2 separate regions of the Homo sapiens genome follow, and region 2 is reported to be linked to region 1. Evidence: microRNA targets listed by miRTarBase, many of them from high-throughput screens and not tested one by one. Region 1 holds a microRNA gene; the other region holds the end of a gene's coding sequence. Distances are between the middles of the regions.

What was found. Region 1 holds the annotated microRNA hsa-miR-7976 (UGCCCUGAGACUUUUGCUC, at 2,848-2,866, opposite strand). A microRNA usually pairs through its seed, bases 2 to 8, with sites in the 3' UTR of a target mRNA and lowers its output. Matches are read on the target gene's strand: a 7mer-m8 pairs with bases 2 to 8, a 7mer-A1 pairs with bases 2 to 7 and ends in A, and an 8mer does both.
Region 2: the mRNA of CAMKV is a reported target of hsa-miR-7976. Seed matches in the 3' UTR shown: 7mer-A1 at 1,121-1,127.

The regions. Positions count from the first base shown.
Region 1 is chr3:127,584,311-127,588,377 of GRCh38, forward strand. It overlaps MIR7976 (microRNA 7976), which reads right to left and starts at 2,866; the gene lies at 2,801-2,866. The region is part of intron 1 of TPRA1 (transmembrane protein adipocyte associated 1); the gene reads right to left.
Region 2 is chr3:49,855,592-49,859,658 of GRCh38, reverse strand. CAMKV (CaM kinase like vesicle associated) reads left to right here. Exons shown (of 11, transcript NM_024046.5): 11 at 1-1,670. The coding sequence ends at 341. It overlaps TRAIP (TRAF interacting protein), which reads left to right and starts at 3,095. Exons shown (of 15, transcript NM_005879.3): 1 at 3,095-3,303. The coding sequence starts at 3,206.

The DNA of each region.
Region 1 (4,067 bases):
CATACCTGTAGTCTTAGCTACTCGGTGGGGCCGAGGTGGAAGGATCACTTGAGCCCAGGAGCTCCAGGCAGCAGGCAGCAGCAAGCTATGATCACACCACTGCACTCCAGGCTGGGCCACAGAGTGAGACCCTGTCTAAAAAAAAAAAAAAAAAAAAAAAAAAAAAAAAAGAAGCAAACTTCTAGAGATAAATGCTAAGTGAAGAAAACAGAGAGGTGGAGCAGAATGACAAGAAACACAGTAGAGACTGCTGGGTTCCCCCAACATCTACCCTTCCCTTTAGTGATGGAACCAATGGAGTTTAGCTTACACATCGCTTCCCAGCACAATGGGGACCTTTCCCAGCTTCCCTGCAACTGGGTGTGGCCATGTGGCTGAGTTTTATCCAACTGGACACGAGCTGAGACAGGCTGACAGTCCTTCAGCCTGTCATTTGATCTAATCCCATGGTGTGAAGACATAAACTCTAAAACAGAGGCCCAACAAAGATAAAAACCCTGACTTGTCTTTAAAAAGAACTTTTTTTTTGTTATAAACATATGACACGAGCAGAGTGAGGTCTGCTAATTTCAGATCATGCCCTCCTCCCTTCCCGGTGGCTGGAATATAGATACGACAGTGGGAGCAAGAGCAGCCTCCTCAGACCACGAGGCAGAAACCCTGTACGAGGGTAACAGAGCAATGAGAAAGAAGGTGTCTGGGTCCCCAGCACAATGAGGCCTCCGTGCATGTACTGGACAGCTTGCACAGAGGCTGCCTGCATAGATAAAAATAATCTATTTTATTATCCTAGCCTTTGTTTCAACAGCTAGCCCAAATCCCAATGAATATAAAGGTACTGCTTGGACTGGGTAGTCAAACAAGGTGACATTTTGAGCCGAGATCTCAATAAATAAGCAGGAGCCAGCCTTGGAAAGATCGAGATAAAGAACATTCCAGGGAGAATCACCTAAGATCCAGATGCACAAGTCCAGAGGTAGAAACAGGTTTGGCCTGTCCCAAGGGCAAAAAACAGGCCAGGGTAGCTGATACCAGAAAGGTTGGCAGGGCCAGGTCCCACATGCAACTCGACTTCACTCTAAGTGCAACCAGAAGGGTGTTACAAGGAGTGAGAGGTCTGGTTTCCATGGGGACAGGATGCCAGTGAAAAGGGACTGAAGTGGAGGAGGAACAGAGACAGGGAGGCCATGAGGAGCTCCTGCAACAGTCCATGCATGAGAGGACAGAGGCTTGCACTAGTGGCAGCAGTGCAGGTGGAACAGAGGGACTTGGGAGACCTTTGGGAGGCTTGGCCAACAAGACCCACTGACAGATCAAACACAGGGAATGAGAGAAGAGGCCAAAGACGGCTGATGGTGCAGTTTCTGGCCTGAGTCACTGGATGTTTTGCAACTGAGGCCAACACTGACCACCAGACACTGTCCCCTTCTTCCTCACTAACAAGCTACTATTTTGTTCAGGATCCCTCCATAAAACCTAGTGTTCAAGCAGGGGCCCCTCCCCAGGACCAGAAGTTGAGTCTCCATTAATTTCAGCCAATGGTCTCTGGGGTGGAGCCGGTGTGGAGCACTGCTCTAGTTTGACATGGCAACTGCTAGGGAATGGAGGACTGTGGATTTTTTTGTGTGCAGGGTCCAGGGCTGCCAAATGTCTGCAATGCATAGGACAGTCTGCCAAATGAGTAACTAACTGTCTTCCCCTACAGCTAGCATGCCCTGCAGAGTGGCTCTGGTCGAAGTCAAGAAGGGTGGCCCTTCTGCTCCTGGCCAGCAGTTGGTTGAGGCAAAGGCATGTGATGCCTCATGGGGGGATCTGTGCCTGTGTGGGGTGTCCAGAACTGTCTTCCTGCACCCCTGGAGGACTGGGCCACCACGCTGAGCATGCAGGAGCTTACAGCTGGAAGCGGGTGTGCAGCGCGCCTCCTGCATGACTTCTGGTGGCATGAGATAATAACTTGTAACTTTGAGTTGAGAGTATCAGTGACCTGATGAAGGAGGGAGATTCTACAGCCCTCTCCTCCCCACCCCATTATTTATTTATTCATATATTTTTCAGACAAAGTCTCACTCTGTCACCCAGGCTAGAGTGCAGTGGTGCAATCTCAGCTCACTGCAACCTCTGCTTCCCAAGTTCAGCCTTCTGGGTTCAAGGAGTCTTCCCATCTCAGCCTCCCAAGTAGCTAGGATCACAAGTGTGCACCACCACACCTGGCTAATTTTTGTATTTTTAGTAGAGACAGGGTTTTGCCATGTTGGCCAGGCTGGTCTAGAACTCTGGACCTCAAGTGATCCACCTGCCTGAGCCTCCCAAAGTGCTGAGATTACAGGTGTGGGCCACCATGACCAGCTATCCCCACCCCTATTATAAAGCCAAGCCAGGCAGAGTGAACGCCTGGTCCTAGCAGCCCAGCACCAACTCTGACCCAGAATGGAATGTCACGCAGCCCCAAGACGGGCAGGGCCAGGGTGCAGGCCAGGCACCCAGCAGTCACCAGCAAGCTGAGAGGCCCCTTGAGGCACAGAGGCCAGTGGGGAGGAACAGGGGCAGGGAGTAGGAGAGTGGGGGAGTCAGGCAGAGTCCAGGGTATGGAGGGCGGGGTGGGCTTCTGGTTTTGCCTGCCCAGCATCCAGGCTGCTGCCAGTTGGTAAGAGCACCGTTTTCCTGAGGTGGAAACTCAGCTCCCAGACTCTAGACTCTCTGGAAGTTTAGGGATGCGTGACTAACCCTTCACAACCCAGGGAATGCACCTGTGATCTAAGTCTGGCTAGTCAGGATGTTCCATCACCCTGGCCAATGAAAATCTGCCCTGAGGCTTTTGATCTAAATTATTATTAGAATAAATTATTAGAGCAAAAGTCTCAGGGCAGATTCTCATTGACAATTGAGGAAACACTCTCTGCTGAGCTCAGTAAGTCAGGGCTGTACCACCTTGACCTCACGCTCAGGTACCCGCCTCAGAGTAAAGCCGACGCGGAGGAGTGGAGAGCTGAGACACGGATGGAGACAGATCTTGATGAGCTCACTGGAGCCCCTGGATTCAGCCACATCCAAAGCCAGTCCTACCCGCTTGGACTTTTCAGTTATAAAACCCAACAAATCCCCTTTTCTGCCTAGGCCAGTTTGAGTCTGACTTCTCTAATTCACCAGTGAAAAACCTCCAGCTAACACAGATTTTGGAGTCAACAAGACGGGGCTGCACTGCTGGTTCTGCCACGTGCTTGCTGTGTGACCTGGGGTGAGTCACTCCCCCTCCAAGTATCATGGGGACAACATCTGCCTAATAAGGGTGCCGTAAGGATCAAACAAAACCAGGGATGTAAACATCTACAAAAGTGACACATGTACAAAGGTGGTTGCTGCTTTTCTTTTTTTTTTTTTTTTTTTGAGACAGAGTCTTGCTCTGTCGTCCAGGCTGGAGTGCAGTGGCGCGATGTCGGCTCACTGCAACCTCCACCTCCCGGGTTCAAGCAATTCTCCCACCTCAGCCTCCCAAGTTGCTGGGATTACCAGAGAAGAGACTGAAGGGCAAGGAGGGAAAGGAATTGGTTCCCAGGTCCATGGACCTCTTGTGAAGCCCCCATTGCTGTGGGGTCTGAGGAAACACAGAGGAGGTGTCAGCTGCTCTGCCTGCCCCCACTCCCCTGCCAACAACGTAGTAACCTCTGTGCCTAACCTCTGAGCCCTGGCCTCCAACCCTGGGAGGGAGGTACTTATGTTATCCGCATTGTGCACGTGGAGCTCAGAGGGGCAGCCACTTGCCAGGCCAGCAATCCAGGCTGTCTGTCTCCAGAGCCCAGGCCCCCAGTCAACAACTTGCCAGGTGCCCCTCTCCAGGCCTCGGCTTCTCCACCTGTGGGTCAAGAGCACCAGGCTTGTTCTAGAGCTATCTTCTCAGACCTGATGTGGGAAATACCCTGGTGTTGTTAACATGCAGATGCTGCTCCCAAGGGCAGGGGTAGGGCTGAACAGTCTGTGTTTCCCACAGGCTCCCAGGTGGTGCCCCTGCTGCTGCTACTTGATCCAGCAACCACACTGGGGTTATGGGGCTGCTGGCCATACCAGGATTG
Region 2 (4,067 bases), 78 Mb from region 1:
CCACAGATGGAAGTGCCACCCCAGCCACTGATGGCAGTGTCACCCCAGCCACCGATGGAAGCATCACTCCAGCCACTGATGGGAGTGTCACCCCAGCCACTGACAGGAGCGCTACTCCAGCCACTGATGGGAGAGCCACACCAGCCACAGAAGAGAGCACTGTGCCCACCACCCAAAGCAGTGCCATGCTGGCCACCAAGGCAGCTGCCACCCCTGAGCCGGCTATGGCCCAGCCGGACAGCACAGCCCCAGAGGGCGCCACAGGCCAGGCTCCACCCTCTAGTAAAGGGGAAGAGGCTGCTGGTTATGCCCAGGAGTCTCAAAGGGAGGAGGCCAGCTGAGTAGGCAGCCTGGTGAGGGGGGGCAGGGGATGGGCAGGAGGGTGGGAGAGTGGATGAGGGGCTTCTCACTGTACATAGAGTCACTGGCATGATGCCCTCGCTCCCCCATGCCCCCACATCCCAGTGGGGCATAACTAGGGGTCACGGGAGAGCAGTCTCGTCTCCTGTGTGTATGTGTGTGAGTGGTGGGCAGGCCAGTGGCAGGGCCGGCCCCAGCCCCTGCATGGATTCCTTGTGGCTTTTCTGTCTTTTGCTAGCTTCACCAGTTTCTGTTCCTTGTGGGATGCTGCTCTAGGGATACTCAGGGGGCTCCTGCTCTCCTTCCCCTTCCCTTCTTGCCTCACCATTCCCCTAGGCAGGCCCTGCAGGTCCCACACTCTCCCAGGCCCTAAACTTGGGCGGCCTTGCCCTGAGAGCTGGTCCTCCAGCGAGGCCCTGTCAGCGGTCTTAGGCTCCTGCACATGAAGGTGTGTGCCTGTGGTGTGTGGGCTGCTCTAGGAGCAGATACAGGCTGGTATAGAGGATGCAGAAAGGTAGGGCAGTATGTTTAAGTCCAGACTTGGCACATGGCTAGGGATACTGCTCACTAGCTGTGGAGGTCCTCAGGAGTGGAGAGAATGAGTAGGAGGGCAGAAGCTTCCATTTTTGTCCTTCCTAAGACCCTGTTATTTGTGTTATTTCCTGCCTTTCCGAGTCCTGCAGTGGGCTGCCCTGTACCCTGAACCTCATGAGCCTCTAAGGGAAAGGAGGAACAATTAGGACGTGGCAATGAGACCTGGCAGGGCAGAGTACAAGCCCAGCACCCAGTGTCCCAGCCTTACTGGGTCCTTACCCTGGGCCAAACAGGGAGGGCTGATACCTCCTTGCTCTTCCTAGATGCCCACCTCCTACAATCTCAGCCCACAAGTCCTCTCCACCCTAGGGGGCTTGCTGCATGGCAATAACTCATAATCTGATTTGGAGGTTTGCCCTTTACAGGGGCAGATTTTCTGCTCAGTTCAACAATGAAATGAAGAGGAACTCCCTCTTTCTACAGCTCACTTCTATCAGAGGCCCAGGTGCCTCAGAGCCACATTGAGTTGCTTTTTCTGGGATGAGGAAGTAGGGTTAAACTCCCCAGTTTCCTGAGGGAGGCTCCTGACAGGTGCCCTTTGTCAGACCCTACCACAGCCTGGATAGGCAGCCACATTGGTCCTCGCCCTTGCTCGGCACTCCGTGGTGGTCCTGCCCTTCTCCCTGCATGCCTGTGGGTCTGCTCTGGTGTGTGAAGGTCGGTGGGTTAACTGTGTGCCTACTGAACCTGGCAAATAAACATCACCCTGCAAAGCCTCTGGCCACCCTCTCGCCTTTGCTTCCTCTGTCCTACTGGGGAGGAGCCCCTGGAAGGCAGTGGGGAAGGGAGAGGCTGGGAGCAGGTTCACAAGTAGTGGCTGGGAGTAGTAGTGAACAGTGCCCTGTGGATTTCTTGGGCTGAGGGTGAAGATCATCCTCACCACAGTGTATTCCTCAATGGTGGTGGTGGTGGGGGTCCTCTGAACTCTAGAAATCCATGTGAGTAGTGGGTCTTGGGCTGCATTTGGACCAAGGAATACTCCCTGGGCTGAGAGCTCAAGTAAGGGCTGCTGTTTTTGACTCCTGTTGACCGAGGAGCCTTACTCTTGATTTAGGCATAGAGCTGGAATCTACCTGGGCCAGCCACCGCAAGGACAGACCCTGCTCATAGCCAAAGATAGCTTCCCTGAGCTAGGGAGAGGGTGTAGGGTGAGCAATGCACAAAGATTCTATGCTGCTCTGTGTTGATTCCTTCTTTCTGTGAACACCTGTGCTTTCCACCTATGCCCCAAATGAAATCTCACTCTGGGTCTATTTCAGCTGGAGCAGATCAGCTTTATATTATGGGACTATGCACAGGGTTTCTTCTGGGTAGAGGGAGTAACACTGCCACAGATACTAAGCCTAAAAACCCAAAAGTTGACTTACTCCAGCCCAGGTGGGCCTGGGTGAACTCACCAGGGATGCTGCTCTCTGGGAGGACCTCAAAGATAACCTCCTCAAAGATAACTTCTCTGATGTGGGAATAATAAAAAGGATTTGTTAGTCTCTAGTCTTTGAAGCATCTGGGCCTCCAAAATTCCAACCCTACTACAGTCTCAAGCATAACTGATCCTCCTGAGAGCTAAGAGCTAAAGTCAGGGTACTGGCCCTAGTGTCTCCAAACTCAAGGATAGTCATATCTTACTTGGATGAAGCCAAGGTTGGCCTGGGGTGACCTGAGGGACTGGGGCCTATGTGTCCATCTTTCTAGAATCGCCCGGAACTGAGGACTGAGAGGGTAGGGTATTGTGGTCTATGGGAACTACAGACCATAGCGCATGGTCCATCACTGTCCAGAGCCCAAGGGACCCATCGGGACCATTGTTCTATTCCCTTGCGGCTGCGGTTTTCTCTGCCTTGGCCCAGCCTGCCTCGCGCCAGCTCTGGCATGGGACCACAATGCGCTGCCTTGCCCTGGAAAAGGGTCCAGCTGGCAGCCTCGCTGCTCCCCGCCTTGATATAATGCTGCGCTCTCAAGTGGCAGGTCGAGTCTCCCCAGAGGACGCCTGAGAGCGACCGCGCTCCGCCCAGGATTCTCTACGGCCTCGGGGCCGCTAAGCCCCGCCCATAGTTCCGCCCATCCGAGAATTTGTCCAATCCAGGCGAAGTATTCACGCTCCGCCCAAAGTTTTGTGTTGTCACTTCCGGCCCGCTCCAGGAAGTCGTGCTGCGGAGCCAAATTTGAAGCAAGCGGAGGCGCGGGGGCGCGTCTACGAAGCCGGACCTGTAGCAGTTTCTTTGGCTGCCTGGGCCCCTTGAGTCCAGCCATCATGCCTATCCGTGCTCTGTGCACTATCTGCTCCGACTTCTTCGATCACTCCCGCGACGTGGCCGCCATCCACTGCGGCCACACCTTCCACTTGCAGTGGTGAGTGACTGCAGTGTTGGGGCCCGGTGTTTGCCCGGGTACCGCTTCAGGGCCTTGAGGTGTTGGGCCTCCAGGCGGTCCAACCCCGGAATCCAGACAAGTGATGAGAACCTTCCTCCTAGACGAGGCCCCACGGGAGCTTCCCAACCTGGGCAGAAGTGGGTCAGGACAGGCTTTCTGGTAGAGGTGATAGCTGAGCTAAGCCTGAGGGGGACTAAGATGGCTCAGTGAAGATAGATGCTTCCTTGATCACCTATACAAACAGATGTGATTTCAAAACCGTTAGCCTGGGCAAGGGTGAGCTTTCACCACATCAACAAGTCCTTTTATTTCTTCCAGATAGAAACCTGCTAGGCTTCTGGCTACCCAAGAGAGTTTGCTGTGCCTTACTTGATGGTTTGGAATTATTCTACCCAGAGTCATCTCACTGTCCAGACACCCCAATGTATTCGCCATGTCAGCAAACCCGTTTAACATGGGGAAGGCAAGGAGATGCTCCCCTATCCAGGGGTCCTGCTGACCGTGTAGGGCCATTCTGTTGAGTGTACAGCTAGTGGGGAAAGATTCCCCTAGCAGATGTGGACAGGCCGGTTTGGACCTCCTAGCAAAAGAGATAAGGCAGCGTTACCCCTGGGAATGGTGGGTGATAATAATCACAGGGTCTTGTGGGGCTAAAGGCCCTAGGAAGCAGAAAGGCAGGCATGACACTGATGGCTGCTGGCTTACTTGCAAAGCTTTGTTTAGGCCTGTGTTGCTGACAGCCT